Regions from separate parts of the Homo sapiens genome. Here all the other regions are linked to region 3. Evidence: fine-mapped expression QTL. A gene starts in region 3. Each other region holds a variant in brackets. All regions are shown on one strand. Distances are between the middles of the regions.

What was found. PIP is the estimated chance that this variant, and not a neighbour inherited with it, causes the effect.
Region 1: its variant is fine-mapped to the expression of LIMCH1 in blood mononuclear cells (TOPMed, PIP 0.99).
Region 2: its variant is fine-mapped to the expression of LIMCH1 in blood mononuclear cells (TOPMed, PIP above 0.99).

The regions. Positions count from the first base shown.
Region 1 is chr4:41,370,822-41,376,413 of GRCh38, forward strand. It overlaps a transcript of LIMCH1 not described here. Among named protein-coding and RNA genes, the nearest start is that of UCHL1, 120 kb to the left of the region's middle. The variant G/A (reference allele first, on the strand shown) is at 3,079.
Region 2 is chr4:41,358,353-41,363,944 of GRCh38, forward strand. It overlaps a transcript of LIMCH1 not described here. Among named protein-coding and RNA genes, the nearest start is that of UCHL1, 100 kb to the left of the region's middle. RefSeq lists an enhancer at 4,472-5,133. The variant A/G (reference allele first, on the strand shown) is at 3,360.
Region 3 is chr4:41,536,089-41,541,680 of GRCh38, forward strand. It overlaps LIMCH1 (LIM and calponin homology domains 1), which reads left to right and starts at 2,069. Exons shown (of 32, transcript NM_001330672.2): 1 at 2,069-2,262.

The sequences.
Region 1 (5,592 bases), 170 kb before region 3:
ATAGAACAAACACCCAGCACAGTGCCTGATATATAAGATACTTCTCAAGCAAGCACTGTTTATGGCCGTTTTACAGATGGGAAAATGGAAGCACGGAAATGGTAAGTGATATGCTTGAAGCCACACAGATAATCAGTGGCAGAGCTGGGATTTGAACCCAGGCAAACTGGTTCCAGAGCTTGGACTGGTGACTGCTGTGTCCCGCTGCCTTATCCTTAACAGCTGCTCCGTATATATTTACTTATTGGAAAAAGTACCTTTGCAGAGTTAGTATTTGGGACCCTTTAGAAGTAAAAGCGAAACTTCTAAAAAGATCATGGTCCCAAGTAACTACCTAACCAAGCAGGTGACCTGCCTCTCTCCTTCTCTCTCTTCATTCCCTTAATGGTTCAATATGCTGTTTATTGAGCATCTTCTATATACATAGCACCGTTAGTTGCGAGGAAACAATTTCATCCATATGGCTCCCAAGCACATTCTCTGAAACTGGAACCCTTTCAATATGTTTTAAAAGATAATTGTCAGTAGGGTGGTTAGGACCATGATGAAAAATCATTACAGGAGCCCAATGAACCATCATCAGTGGGTGGAACCATTTTTACTCCCTTTCACTTCACGTCTATTTCCCCAGTCTTTTTCTCCTTGATTGGAACCTGACTCCCCCACTGGATTCAAATAGTCCTTGATGCTGAGATCCAGACTGGAATGATTATAAACAAGGGGAAGGAAAATGTGGATTTAGGGTGCCTCCCTGCCAGGCACCGTTAGTTCTTTGCGTATGGTATTCTGTTTAGTCTTTGTGTAACACAGGTATCTGCTGCCCCCGTCCCAGTTTGAAGTTCTCTACTGTGCCTGTTTCAATAAATTTCACCCATGTTAAGACTGGCAGGCCTGATCCCACGTAGCTCCTGAGTCCCCACATAGTGCCCACATGATAGTTCTTCTTTTGGCCTCATCTGGCACCTCCCAACAGCAGCTCCACTCTTAGACCTCTCATGTGGCACAGGCTCTGGCATTCTGAACAAATATAGTTGGCTATTTTATAATGTCGGTTTCTGTAATGAGGATTATTACATATGCGATTGGGAAATAAGAGAAGCATGCTTGGTAAGGTGCAAGTTGCGATGGTTCATGTGAGATTTTTATTAACACTTGCGTATTTTGTACCACCAAATAGCAGTAGTTGAAAACAAAATAGGATAGTAGAGGTGAACACAACCAGCCAGGGAGGTGAACACCCCTCTTTTTGCTCTAGACTCCATTTGGCTTTGTGTTGATTGAAACGTCTGCTTTTCCCAGATCTTTCTGCATTTTCCTCTCATCTCCATAATGCAGCAGTCTCGGTCTTTCCTCACACCCTTCCACCATGCGCTCTTGCCCCCCACCTTTTTGTGTAATCTTCCGTTTGTTCTGTAATAGGAAATAGAAAACATCTTTTTATGTGTGCTGGTAATTTTTAGTGTTCTTGTTTTTGTTACTGCTCTGGTTACAAAGTTGAGTAGGGTTTGGGCCTTTTACATGAACTCTGTATTTTCCACAAGCCCTGTTATTTTTAGTGTGAGATTTTGTAGGATACAAGGTTTTTGGCTGGCTGTCTTAGTTTGGGACATTATTCATACATTTACAGGAATATGGATACTGTTTTATGGTAGAAATACATAGATATTAATAGTTTGGGCAGATAGTATCTCTCACACACTTACCCACACAGATGCATACATAAAACAATACCTTGAAGATTCCCAGTGCTGGAGCCTGGGATCTTGGGTCATATGGAAAATGTTTTCTTTAGGAATTTCACATTTCCTATCTGCTATCAGAAGACCTTGGACAACATTTCCAGGAGAAGCTTCTGTTGCCTTTGGAGGAGGTAGTTGAATATTGTCTGTGTGTGTGTTTTTCTGATCCATTTTTCTTTGAGATTTTGTGCCTGGGTACTACATAAAGCAGCACTGTTTTCATCCAGGAAACCTACAGGAGTTACTTATTGTGAGTGAGAAGCTTAAGTGAGTTGGAAATGAGGAAACTGAGACTTGAGGGTTGGCAATTTGTCTGAGGGTCAGTGACTTCTTGGCTGCGATTATTCCTGTTCTCTGGAGCCCTTTCTACACCAGTATATGAGTATTGGCAATTTGTCTCCGTTTGGGACATCATTCATTCATTCATCATATAGTTATTGAGCGTGTCCTAGGGACTCAGTAGTATGAGAGACAAATGTGAGATTTCCATTCCACCTGGAAGGATGGACGCTGAGCACAGAATCACGCGTGTGATGCATGCTTGGAAAGGGAAGAGCAAGTTGGTCTGGAACACAAAAAGGGCCGGGATCTCCTTTGGTCTAAGGGGCAATGGGACAGCCTCTCTGAGGAAGTGCTATGTAAGCTGAGACCCCAAGGATGAGCAGGGGTTGGCCATGCAAAAATGAGCAAGAAATCATGTTCTAGGCAAACACTTCAGGCTGTAGTGTTTGCCTTAATGGAAGAGCTGAAGAAGACCAGTAAGGCAGGAGCTTTGGGAGTAGGTATGAGGGAGGTGCAGGATGAAGCTAGAGTGGGCTGCAGGAAAGCTGCATGGTCCTGGCACCGAAGATAGGAATCCTCCGTGCTTCTTGGCCCGGCCTGGGCCATGGCTGGCCTTGTCTGGGAGGACAGCAGTTGGATTTTCTCCAAACTCTCTCAAATTACTATAGTTCCTGACAAAAGAATAGAAACATAGCTAACATTTATGAGAGCTTATGGCCTGGCAAATTCTGTCCTAAGCACCTGACTTTTCAACCATCCTATGAGCTAGCTACAAACTCTTATTACTCCCATTAAACCTAGAAATGAGTGAATGGCTAAGGGTTTTACGGTCATTAGGTGGTAGAGCTGATCTTCAAACTCATGCAGTCTGGCTGCTTTACCTGTGCTCCTAACCACCATGCTATGGGGTGTGATATGGTTTGGATTTATGTCCCTGCCCAAATCTCATGTTGAATTGTAATCCCCAATGTTGGAGGAGGGGCCTGGTGGGAGGTGACTGGATCATGGGGGCAAATTTCCCCCTTGCTGTTCTTGAGATAGTGAGGGAGCTCTCACG[G/A]GATCTGGTTGTTTAAAAGTGTGTAGTACCTCCCCCTGCTCTCTCTTCCTCCTGTTCCTACCATGCAGGACATGCCTACTTCCCCTTCTGCCATGATTGTAAGTTTCCTGAGTCTCCCCAGCCATGCTTCCTGTAGAGCCTGCAGGACTGTAAGCCAATTAAACCTTTTTTCTTTATAAATTACCCAGCCTCAGGTAGTTCTATATAGCAGTGTGAGAACAGACTAATACAGGGTGCAAATGCAGGCTGTTGACCAAGGGTGTCTGTGAGGGATATTGATGAGGGGGAACAGCAGTAAAGAGCTGGGGGCAGGAGGGTAGAGGTAGGGGATGCCTAAGGATGCTGGAGGCCAGTGTTGGCTTTAGACATGTTTTCTGTATTTTAAAAGAAACTCCAAAAATAAGTCCTCTCACCTTGACAGTTTTGCCACCTGGGAAGGAGAGTGATTGTATAGAAAGAGTGCTCCAGGCATCTCCCAAACCCCACATTCTAATGCATGGGGACTCTGGTTCCCAAGCAGCCTGATGAACCCTGGTATTGCTCTGACATGATAGGCCACTCATTTTTAACTTCCATCAAGAGTTGTAAGTAGTATGATATATTTAAAAATGTATTTCTTATTTTATTTTAAACTCTGTGTGTGTGTTTAATAATTTTTTTCATTCAATTTTTTTTTTTGTTTTAGTTAGCATTCTTATGGTTGCAAGCAACAGAAATCCAACCAAAACTGGCTCTAAAAAATAGACAGTTGATTGCTCATTGACGTTCTGGAGGTAGATCCCTACTTCATACAAAGGCTGACTCAGCAGCTCAATGATATCAGTAAGGATCTGGATTCTCTCTCTCTTTCCACCGTGCTGTGCATTGTGTGGCTTTATGCTCTGGCTTTACATAGGGCCTCCACACCTGCCCTACCCCACTTCAGAAGGTCCAGGCTTTTCCACTAAAGGCTGGCTGGGAAAGAGCGACTCCAGTCCTCAAGTTCTCTTTACACCCTCTGGGCAGAGAAAGAGGACACATTCTCATTCATGATCACCAGGGAAATAGATGAGTTGATTAGCCTAAGCCAATCAGACTTCACCCTGGTCCGTCCCTATCAAAGATGCTGGCTGCTACCCAACAGAGAAGCAGTGAATTCCCTAGAGGAAAATCTGGGTACTTTTAGTAGAAGAATGGGTAAAGTGGATGCCAAAGAGGCTACCACCAATTGTTACTAACATTTTATTAAAAATGTGGTAATATACAAGAACACACAGATGATAAGGGAAGGAAGGAAATAATTAAAATGAACTATTCAGAACACTGACTACTTCTTGGAGGTGAGTATAAGATTATAAGCTGGGAGTGGTTAAAAAGAGGCATTAATAGATTGTTTTACTCCTATTTTTATAAGACTAGAACAGTGCTATTTTTAGAGGTATCACTGAATGTCAAGTGCCCAACCCATACCTAATGGGTTCTATTAGGTGTAAAAATGTGATTGAATGAACTGGATTGATTTTTAAACTGTTGATTAAAAAAATAAAGATGTTCATCCTGGGTACTTCAACTCTCCTTTCTTCCCAATATATATAAACCTTTACACTGAATTACTGTAACTTTAAAAAAATGTTATAAATTAAAGTATCCAATACCAGTATCTGATTTTTTTCCCATTTAATTTCATATTTCTCAGGTAAAGATATCTATTTTTTGGAGCCTGAAGCCTAGAAATAGCAAAACCATGCAGTTGCTGTTCACCGGACACTCCGGGTCCAGGGGGTGTGCAGCTCTGTGCCTGAGCAGTCCCCAGGCATGTGGGGCTTTTCTAAAAGTGGATACAGCGGCTGTCGCCCACTGATCCTCTGTGCTGAGTGACCCAGATTGGCACAGCGCAGCTGGGTCCTACCCAGGGCGAGTACGGGAAAGAGGAGTAAAAATAAAAACTGGTTGGGCAGCTTAGGTGGAGTCAGGATACTTGAAAGCTCACAGGTTACTTTGCTAATTCTTGGGCAGATTTTTCCTTTTTTCTTTTTTGAGGGGATAGTGATGATTCCAATGACAGTTTTCTAGATTTCTTGGATTTGACAAAATAGTTTCATACAGAACAGCAAAATGAAGTATGTAGAAAATATGTTTTTTGAGATTAGAACATTTGCCCTTGACATGAGTTTCTTATTTATCCTATTCAACATTCAAGTCTCCAATAAAGTTTTCCCCAAAGGTATCTCTTTTATGGAGTTACTTTCTGAATGAAGACATTTCTGTCTTTTTTGTTAATAGAACGAAATGTACTTGCCATTATAGTTTCTATATAGTTTTCTATGTTATCTAAGAAAAATGAGTAAGAGTGTTTAGGTATGGTGTCAAGTTACCCACCCAGAATAGTTGTTCAATCTCTGCCACTGTTTGGCATTTTGACATTTGTGTTTTTAAAGTGTAGTAGATTTGCTAATTTTTGAAGCTTTGGTCCTTACTATTAGAAATTTTGAGGTTTTATTTTTGGTGTTTGACCAAGGGATTTTTTTAAAATGC
Region 2 (5,592 bases), 180 kb before region 3:
CATATCACTGCCCAAAGCCATATATTGTATTAGTGTACCAGAGTCATTTTGTGGACTGTTTGCTTTGCCATGTTTCTTTATGGAAACAAGGTCATCTTCTGCCCACACGTCTTTAGCCCTTTCCCATGCTTGCCTTCTTTATCTCTTCTTTGTATACTTTTCCCTCCCTCTGTTTTGGACAGCAGGGTGGAGGTGAGGATCAGTGGTCTGTACTCAGCAACTGCTTGTTTGTCAGGTCCAGCTTTGGTCTGTTTACATTCAGTCCCCTTGTTCGTGCCTTTCACAATGATTCTGCTGGATGACTATATCCACCTCATTTTAGGTGAGGAAACTGAGGGACACACTGTAAGTGGGAGTCTGGACAGGACTGGTAAGACAGCTTGGTGTGCAGTTAGGAGCAAATCTGGCGCCAGGCTGTCTGGGCTTGAATCCAACCCTCCCTGTCCACCAGCTCTGTCCCCTGGTTTCCTCGTAGGGATGATAACAGTCCTATCTTACAGAGCTGGAATAAGGACTGAGTTAGTCAATTATTTGTAATGCACTTAGAACAGTGCCTGGCACAGTATAAGTGCCACGTAAGTGTTTTCAAAGCAAATAAACTAAAGCCTGTCTGACTCCAAAGCTGGTAATGGTGGAATTTGAGGCCTGCTTTTTGTTCCATTCCCCTATTATAGCAGCAGAATTGGACAAAGATTAAACTCGGATTCTGGATGGGGAACAGAGATTTAGAGGCTGAGGCACCCAGGGACCTCCAGCCACCGTCAGAAACCTCTTGTTAGCAGCCATTCTGAAGAGGGGAATCCATTAGCTTGAGGTTAGGCCAAGAATACTGAGCTCCTCCGGACCCAGCGCTGGGCTCACGTAGGTCAGAGCTCCCTGGTGGCCTACCAGGGTATACCCAGGCAACAATCTAAAAGGTAGTGTGTGCCCCCTCACCCGCAGGCGGGACCTGGCCTGCCTCTCCCATGCTATCATTCCCGCCTGGTGCTCTCCACACCAGCTCCAGTCTTGCTGGCCCGCTGTGGGCTCCTCCACGGGGAAGCTCATTCCTACCTTAAGGCCTTGGCATCCATCTGGAATTCTTCCCCCAAATTGTTACACAGTTAAATCTCCCTCACTCATGTCACCTCTTCAGGACATTTCCTTACAGACACCTTCCTTGATCGTCACTTGGGCTGTAGTGCAAAACAGAAGGCATGCTCAAGTGGGAGTGGCCAAGGAGAGTTTAAAGGAAGGGTTAGAAAGAAGTGAGCCGGATCGGGAGACCATTATGGGATGGGGAAGCCTTTACCATACCTAGGCCTGGGAGGTTGAGTGGGACAAGAGGAGATGAGGAACCTTCTGGAAACCCCCTAACCACCTGCAGGAAGGGACGAGATAAATAAATGCACGTCTCTCTTCAGCTCACTGACCATCTGCCTACCTCCCGTTAATGGAACCGCGACTCACAGGTCAGCCTCCCAGCCAAAAGGGGGGAAGGCTATCGGAAATTACCCCGCGCTTTTTCTTTCCATGTCATTATCTTCTCCTCTTTTATCTTAACAACACCCGCCACAATTATCTTCTTTTGATTTACATGTTTATTGTCTGTCCCGGCCCCCAATTCCCTCTACAATGTAGATACCTCGAGGGCAAGGACTTCCAGGTAGGGTGTGTGTGGGTAGGGTGTGTAGGGTGTGTGTGTGTGTGTGTGTGTGTGTGTGTGTTTCCATCTCTGCGTCCCCAGCGCCTGGCCCAGTGCCTGACGCATAGTAGGTGCACAGTGACTGTTGGTTGACTGCATCGACAGACTAGGACACAGGTAGCCTTCCTGGAGAAGAAAAGCTCATCAGGGTCGTTTTTCTTTTTCTTCTTACAAAAAGATCAGGTGGCTGTGTACTTCCCGGCGCCGGGCCAGGGGCTGCCCCGCCTTGCCCCTACCTCTGCGGCCAGGAAGGACTGCAGGTGCTGCGCGGCCAGTGCCCGCGCGTCCTACTGCTCCGGTGCCGCAGCGCCCGCTCCCCCGGGCCCGGGTGCGCCCCACTGGGCGCGCGTCTCCCATATGATGCCAGACCCATCCGCCCGCCCCTCAGCAGCCGGCGGGGCGCAGGGACGTGCGGGGCGGCCAGCGGATTCCCTCTATCGGGCCGGGTGTGAACGGGAGGGAGACACGCAGCGCTCGCTCCGGGTTATTTTTAGTCCGTAGCTGTGCTCCCCCTCCCCGGGGGCGGAGCGGCCCTCGAAGGTGGGGAGGAGAAGAAGCTCCCGGCGCCTCCGCGCTCGCTCCCGCGGGTCACTCACGGCGCGTTGGAGCCCGGGCGGCGCCGGGAACAGCTGCCGCGGCGTCCTCTAGCAGCGCGCGGCTCTCCCGGGACCTGCGCCGGCCGGGGGCGGGGAGAGGCGGGGAGGGGAGGCCGGCGGGCGGGAAGGGGCGGGGAGCGCGCTCCTGCGGCGGCGACGGCGGCGGCCGTCCTCATCCCGGCGCTTGAGAGGACGCGGGGCTGCGCAAATGGCTTGTCCCGCTCTCGGTCTGGAAGCTCTTCAGCCCCTGCAGCCCGAGCCGCCCCCCGAGCCCGCCTTCTCCGAGGCGCAGAAGTGGATTGAGGTAGGTGCGGGTGGCTGGCGGGCGGCCTTGCACTGGCGCCCTGAGCCACGGACCCGCGCACGCTCCGACCGCAGGTCCAGCCTTGCCTCCCCCCAACCGCCCCCACTTTCTTTTGCCAGCTGCTCCAGGTCACCCCCCCGGGCCTCGGCGAGCCGCGAAACCTTAGCGCTTTGGCATTGGAATCCCGGGCGAGGGTGGGCGTGAAAGGGGACACTGCAGTCTAGCTGCGCGCGTGAGGGCAGGAAGGGATCCCCTGCGCGTCCATCCTTCCTGCCCGCTGGCCTCGCAAATCTCAGCTAGCGCCGCTTCCAGGCGCTGCCAAGGGAAGCGCAGTGCTAGCAAAGCGTTGCAAAGGCGCAGGAAGCGCGAGCCCCCAGAGACTTCACCGGTGCTCGCATTTCGGGGTATCTTGCTTCTGGTCCCACATTTCGCCCCTTGTCCCCCTACCCCGCACCCTTCCGGAGCAGAGTTGGCAGTGTCTTCACGGAGGCGCATACCCACCGGAGCCTCTTGCTGTATTCCTGGCACCGGGTCAGGTGTGAGGCTGGCACAGTGCGCAGGGCGGGGGTAGCTTGCAAGACCCACCTGCGAGCACGCATCCGCATAGACGCTGCCCAGCCTTTGGCAACCCCCGCCCCTCTCCATCCCAAGGACTGCAGGGTCGGTTCCGAAGTACGGGCTACCCGGTCTGGTTGGCATATTTCACTTCTTAAATAACTCGTTGGCAGGCCAGGGAAATCACTGGAGCTCTCGGCTCTCAGTCCCGGAAGCGCTC[A/G]CTGGGTGATCCTGATTCACGATGTCTATCAGTAGATGCAGCTTGGTAGCCCCGAGCTCCCGAAATGAACTGTCTGCGGGGTTCAGGACGCTTGAAGGGCATGAAGGGGAAAGGTGACCCCCTATGATTAGTGCAAGGAGCCTCAGCTTCAATGGGTGGCCTTTCTGGAGGCTTAGTGGAAGGTATGAATTTGGCCTTGTTTCCCTCAGTGACAAGCAGCCCTCTTTGCCTGGTAGTTCAGAGGAGGAAGTGTATCGCTAAATCATGACCCAGCAATGTTGAAGCTTCCAGAATTCCGCCTGTCACTTAGTGACTCCCCACTCCGTTCAGCATTGTGGTTCCCAAGAAGCTGCTAGAGTAACAAGAGCTCCACGTACAGATTTAAACCTGCTGAGCTTCCTGCAGAAACCACCCTCACTTAATGCTGCTCTCCTGCTCCAGCCAGAGACCTGTACCCTACAGGGTTAACCTGCTTCCCGCAAGCAAGAGTGCTACTTGAGTATAGAAACATCTGTTTGAAAATAGGGTTCAAGAAACAGAACAATGAACATCAGGGCTGTCTTGCTGAAAGCCCCAGGCATGTCTCATAATTTGATAACTCACCATCAGATGAGAAAAAGACCTTGGCTTTTTATTTTTGATATGTGGCTGGAACGGTTTGGCGTGTGACAGGTGCTCTGCCTGTGTTGCGTACTTATGCTCCCAGGATACACAGGAAGCATTTGTAGTTACTGGCTTATTGCAGAGTTGGATAACTATTTTTCAGGTTCTTGAACTCTAAAATTCTCAGGAGAGACTTCGAGTGTGGGTGGGGGTAAGGGGAGGATCTAGAAGCAGAACAGTCTTTACTATTCTTGAAGGCAAGTGATTTATTCTCAATTTCCTTAACTGTATCATTGACATATTCTGCTTTAAAAATGTATTGTGGTATGAGTTACACATGTAAAAGTGCACAAATCTGAAGTGTACACCTCCATGAATTTTGACATATGTATATTACTATAGCCCCCACCTAAATCAAGATACAAAATGTCTCCTTTGGCCCAGATTACAGTTTGCTTTTAAGTGGTAGTATATTTCAGGCTATTATGCAGTGCAGAATATTAGCTTTAATATCACGTTTAAGAAAAGGAAGAAGGGATTCCTTAAGACAGTAGAACCTCATTAAGCCCTATAGACAGTTTGGGATTGTTCTTGATGCTTTACCATTCATACCAATTTAAGAATGTGAAAACCGTAATGGGGCATGCGTGGCTTTAGGACCAGGCAGCCCAGGCGAGCTGCGTGTGCATTATTGAAGTGGCCTATCTCCTTTCAATTGTTGGGTTCAGTTTCAGGGAAAGGAGAGCTTCCCCCTCCCAGGCTATATAAAAAGGTAATTGCTCCAGGGGAAAGATAGAGACCTCCCCCTTCCTTCCCAGAGGTTCTTCTTGAAATGTAAATGCCGAGTCTGCAAACCACGGGAACCCAGAAGTTGTAACAGATGGTTTTGCATGCAGTTGCCTTGTGAACAAAGATTCCTCAGCTAATACAGCAATAATGTAGTACTTAGGGGCAGTGAATCCCCGGGTGGGGGGGCGGATTGGGGATTGGTATCTCGAGACAATTGCAACTCCTCTAGGGGCCCCATTGTCTCTGGCAGCATCCTCATTGGTAGGGCTTTGTTTTTACTTTTATTCAGTTGGTGATTAAATTTCCCATAGGTTTTTTTTCTTTCTTTCTTCTTTTTGAGTAGTCAGGAATTTCACCCTTTCATAAAAATGTTCCCTTGGGTGGAGCAAGTTAATAAACAAACTTTGCTGCTTGTCTCGCCTCGATTCTTGGTCTTCCTTGAGTCATGGATTGGCAAGAAAACATTCATTCTTAATAAAGGCTCAGGGAACCAGATCCAGGACGTAACTTGTTAGTGAGGAATTTCTCGGCGTGCAGCCTTGGCTATTTGAGGACCGTGTTACTGGGCAGGAAATGTGGCCTGGGAACGATTCCCCCACTTCAGCCCCCTTCCCCTCACTCCTTCCTTAGTTGGCAAAGGTGAAAGCTCTAACGGAGCACTAGATGGTCACAGACCACGTGGGGACAGCCCTTTAACACTCCTAGTGACTTTTTATAGCTGTAGGAACAGGTTGCACATCTAACTGTGTTTGGGAAGACTCCTAGAGGAGACAGCAAACTTGAAGTAGTAACTGTGGCTACCAGCAGGCAGGGGAGTGACTAACTTCTTTCCATACTACTT
Region 3 (5,592 bases):
AGCTGACGTCTGACTCCTTTTTTTCCATAGTTATAGCTTACCTAGAGGATAACTTTCTGTGGAACTAATTCTTAGCATGTATTCCAAACCCAGGTTTATAGGGATTTGGTTGTTTGACAACAGGAAAAAAATACCACCAAATGTATGAAGTATGAGACCATGCTAGGCTGAAACAGCACTTCTCTTAAAACGTGCCTTCCTCTGGATTGTTTTTGTAGGAAGTTTGTCTTGGCAAGCATTTCAAAAGAACTCGCTAGACGCCTCTCTTGTAATTAGCTGGCTTTCTGCTAGAATGTTAGGTCTACCTTCATCTCAAATGGTACAAAAATTAATTCCTCTCTGTCGCTCTGTCCACAGTATAAAATACTAGATTTCTGAGTAGTTTGATATCTAATTTTTCCTTTCTAAAATTTAACTATATTCAGTTTAAGTTTTTGATTTAACTTAAACATAACATTAAAAATAGGATGATTGATATAATGTTATATAGGAATGGTACTTTTCCTCTTTTCCCTCAGTGTTAAAAGAATGGTACTTTTTCCTCACAAAAACCTATATCCCCAGCCATGGAAAGAATATCAGACAAACCTAAATGGAAGGATATTCTACAAAATACCCGACCAGTATTCTTCAAAACTGTCAAGGCCATCAAAAGCAAGGCATATCTGAGAAACAAGGAAAGTCCAGAAAAAGTTAAGGAGACATAATGATTAAATATTATATGGCATTATAGATGGGATCTTAAAACAGAAAGAGCATATTAGGGAAAAACTAATGAAATCCAAATAAAACATGGATTTAGTTAATAGTAGTGTACCAGTGTTTATTTCTTAACTGTGATAAATGTAGATGTACCATAGGAATGTAAGATGTAAGACATGAGTTATACTGAAACTCTGCATATTATCTTTGTAGCTTTCTATAAATCTAAAAACTATTCTAAAATAAAAAGTTCACTTAAAGTAGGATGAATGACAATAAAGATAAAAGAGCATAATGCAAGGAAACTATGAAATAGGTAAGGAAATACAGAAGTTATTAATAAATATTAAATGTCAGCCTACCACTTGATGTATTTGTGTCAATAAATGGCAGGATACCAGTGAGTCCATTGGCATATTAATCCAATAAACTTTTATAAATGATGAATTGGTTGTAAACATTGTGTTTTATAGCATTTGAAAATTCCAAATGGTAACTCCGCACACGATGCTTCTGCTCACATATTTCAGCATCCTGCTTTTAGAATCTGCAGAAAGAAATAGTTCATGTCCTTTAGGGAGGTTTAATAAAAAGCAACAGGTGGAAAATGGATTTTGCAGTAGCATGAACAGCCATAACCATAAATACTAGTACCTCAGAATTATACCAGCAGAGGACTGTAAACACATTAATCTCCCAGCAGTGCAGAAATTCCATTCTCAGATGTCATCTCAATTTCAGGCACAAAGATTGAATGCCTCCATTTAAATTCAAAACACTGAAGGAATATGATGATCCTTTTTTTTCATGGGGATTCATGGAGTGAGTTTGCCAGTTTCCTCATCTATAAGATGGGGTTGATAAATCCCATCTCAGCATTGTGGGATTAAATGAGATGATATACATAAAATACCTAATATGATGGATGGTACACAGGATGTTTTCAATAAATGGTAGTTTACTTTTTATTATGCTCATGAACATTAGGATGGTCTTAGAATCCCAGAACTAGAAGCCACTTAGAGATTTACTTTTTGAAACATTGTTATTTTACAAATAAGGAAACTGAGACCAGAAGGCAGTGACTTGCCTGGAGTCAGGCAGCAACTTTGTTCCAGAGTTGGGACTGGAGTGAGTCTTTGTTCCTCGGGTCCCACTTGGGTGCTTTTTCTAGATCCAGATTTCCTGACAGTACTGCAAACCTACTGTGTGCTAGTGGCTGACACAAAGCTCTCTGCACAATTCCAATCCTGGCATCTCTACTTCTGAAGATGCCATTCCTTTTCCTCAGAGGGAATGGGCTTCTCCGCCTCCCTCTCCAATAGGTGTGGCAATCAGCTGTCTTCCAGTTCCCTTTCACTGCATCAGCATTTCAGCCGCAGCAGCCTGCTTGTGGACAGAGCAGGGGTTGGCAGTGGTGACGACTGTTTTGGGAAAGGAAATGTAAGGGCATTTCGGCTGCTGTGCTGGGGCTGACGAGGAGCACACAGGAGAGATGCCCCTCCCATCTCCCAGAGTGGGTTGGCTGGAGTTCATTGCGGAGCATGAGGACGTGTGGGGGTAAGTAAAATTCATTATAAAAGAAATACATGCTTAGGGGTATCCATGATGGAAAGAAGGAAGCTATTTAGACTTTAATACTTGGTTTAAAAAAAAGTGACTTTTTATTCACTTATTAGTATGGCGAAAATAATATGAAAATTACTTTCCTGTGGATTCATCTTGTCCTTTGATAACTGTTAGCACCTGTTGCTTTTAATTAAGCTTTTTTTTTTTTTTAATTCCCTAAGGAAAGCATTGTTTTTTATTTTCCGGTATGTGGTACAAGACACATAACTCCATTAGTTTAGTCAAAATAAAAAGGATTTTTGAGAATTTTGAGAATGAGAAGCAACTTGGCTGCATTTTTAAGATGTGGTCCAGCAGCACATGGTGTTGTGGGGGAGATGTGGCTGCATTCATGGTGGGGCTGCTTCACCTGAGCCCCTGTCACATTCTGCTCCTGACTCCACAGCCCCCTTTGCTTTTTAAAAACTTCCATTTCTTAAAATGAGGAGGAAAAGAAGCAAGGAAGACATTGGGGAGGCAGGGAGGAGTCTGGAGGGAAGGGCTGCATCTCCAGCCTTGCCCACTTAGTCCTTGTCCTTCATAGTCACTATTTACTGCAGGCCGGGAAAGGAATGGGGGTTATTTCTGGACAATTGTCTCATAAAATCCCGTCAGACCCGTCTGAATGCTAAACGTTCCATGGCACTGGTTATCTAGGGGAAGAAAATTTTCCTTAGCCAAATTTATGAGGCTGGGTTGAAAATCAGGTTGAAACAGAGCCTGGCGAATCCCTATGGCAAAATGATTCATCTTTGTGGAGTCGGGAAATCTATTTTTATCACCTTTATTCAGCCAGCTCCTGATTGTGATTCTCTCACTGAGCTACAGCCGTTTTCTTCATGGTGCTGAATAGACCAAATGTCTCAGGAGTCTGAAACTTCTCTCCTGCCACTCCCAGAGTGGCTGATTCAGCAGTCCCGGGAGAAGGGGTTTGTCCTGTGCTGCGCGGGTGGGTTCCGCACAAGGTGAAGGTCAAATAAAACCGAGAGGCTGCAAGTGTCAGCAGCCAGCCTTTGACTCAGGAATCCTGCCTGAGGGTATGTGCCACTCTGCTCTCCTGCTCTCTCTGTAAGGTGACTAGAAGGTGACTGGGCAGCCATAACTCCTCCAATTTTGAAGACCTTCCCAAGGGAAGAAGGGGCAAGAATAAGCCACCCTCCTTACAGCTGCCAATACATCTCCTCAATCTAATCATCGGGCAGAGAGGGACTTCCTAACACCGTTGTATTCATTTTCCCATTTCCATTTAGTTCTGTAACTATGCATTCCAGGCTGATACATAGTCCTAGCTGGTTCTTGCTGGAGTCCCAACTAATGCTGAGAGGAGTGGCAATTGTTCTCTATAATAAAGTTTAAAGGATAAAGATATGGAAGAAGAACTCACTCTTGAGTTTCCTTTTCTAATGGATTCAGCATGCTTACTCTCTGGGAGCTATAACAAATGGCAATTAGGAAAGCAACAGGAATGTTGACTAGACAGGAACAGTGACCATGGCTGTTGGGGGTATTCCCTGCACCTGGTATATAGTAGACACTCAATAACAATTTGGGAAATGAATGACCAGGATACTGTTCCCCATAGGCTTCAGTTGGCCTTCTTAAGAGCTCTCCTTCAGGACATAGTATGCAGGGCAGCTAGGAGCTGACATTCTAGAGTGAGATGGCCTGAGTTCAAATCCTGGATTTGCAGCTTCTCAGTTGTGTGCTGATCTTTGGCAGGCAACACAATCGTTTGTTTCCTCGTCTGTAAAAATGGACATAATATAGTAACTACCTTATGTGGTTTTCATGAAGAGTAAATTAATTAATATAGGTAAAGAGTCTAGATTTTTTTTTCTTGTCATGTGGTTCAAGATATGAAGAAGAAGAAAAACAGGAGTAGGAAAAGAAGGAGAAAGAGGAGGAGGAGGAACTTTGGCTGTTGGGATAAATTTGGGACCCTTTGAGATTTTGGCCCTGCCTTTTAGGTTGAATATTTCCCTAAAATCATGATTCAGTGATTTTTAAACCTTCTCTTGTCCTGTAGAGAGAATAATTTGAGAATAAAAGAATAAAACGGGCCAGATGCAGTGGCTTACGCCTGTAATCCTAGCACTTTGGGAGGCTGAGGCAGGTGGATCACCTGAGATCAGGCGTTCGAGACCAGCCTGGCCAACGTGGCGAAACTCTATCTCTACTAAAAATACAAAAGTTAGCCGGGTGTGGTGATGGGCACCTGTAATCCCAGCTATTCAGGAGGCTGAGGCAGGAGAATCGCTTGAACCCGGGAGGTGGAGGTTACAGTGAGCTGAGATCGCACCACTGCACTCTAGCCTGAAAAGAAAAAAAAAGAATAATAAAATGGATTTCAGGGGGAAAATGATGACGAATTATTGCCAAGAGTTATTGAACTCCTGCTCCTTGCCAGGTACTAACCATATTCAGTGTTGAAACAAACTGTCAGTCCTTGCCCTGATGGACGCTGCAGTTGACTTTCAAGGGCTGCTGGGCAGTGTGAATTCAATGGCTCAGCGAACACAGCTGCTACGTTCCTTGTTCTCTACCTTTTAAAAAGGAATGTTGAGTAGATCTAGAAGGATGAAGCTTTAAACTTAGCTCCCAACAGGAAATGAGGAGTGAGGAAGTAGGGAGAGATTTGTGTGTGTGTGGAGTAGCAGATGAAGTCTAACTGTACAGCAGTATAAAGGCAGTGAAAGAAATGTAGACGTGGGCATTGGATTGAACCATGAAACTGAAGGGAAATCCAAAGCAGTAATGTATCATCAACCTGTGAAATGTAAAGAAGCACAGGTAAGTAGTGAAAGAATGAAGGAACCAAAGCAGTTGTTGTAATGATATAAAATAAGAGCCATAGCTTATTAGACCCTTAGAGTCCCAAAGCCCAGCCTTGAGAGTGTAGATTCGGGAAGGCTGGATTCCTTTGGCATCCTCTCTTTTCAGCTCTGGGTACTGCCGCAGCAGGTGAGCTTGTGTTTGGTCCCTTTCAGAGTCTGGAGTCTCCCATCTCTTGGAAATACAAGGATATGTATGAGCTACCAACTCCCATCTGGCTTTACTGGTCTGTGAAACATTCTATTTTAATTTGGTGAATCCTTTTTTGACTCTAGAGATCTTCAGCAGTACCTGCCCTTCACACCGTTTCCTCACCTTTGCCAGATCTGCTTTTGAGTAGCAGTTTTATCCCTAGATGTCTTATAGCCCAGACCTGGTAAATCACCAATGTGAATTATAGAACAGGATCATTTTTCATCCTGCTTTCATCCCAGTGGCTGGATTAATTTT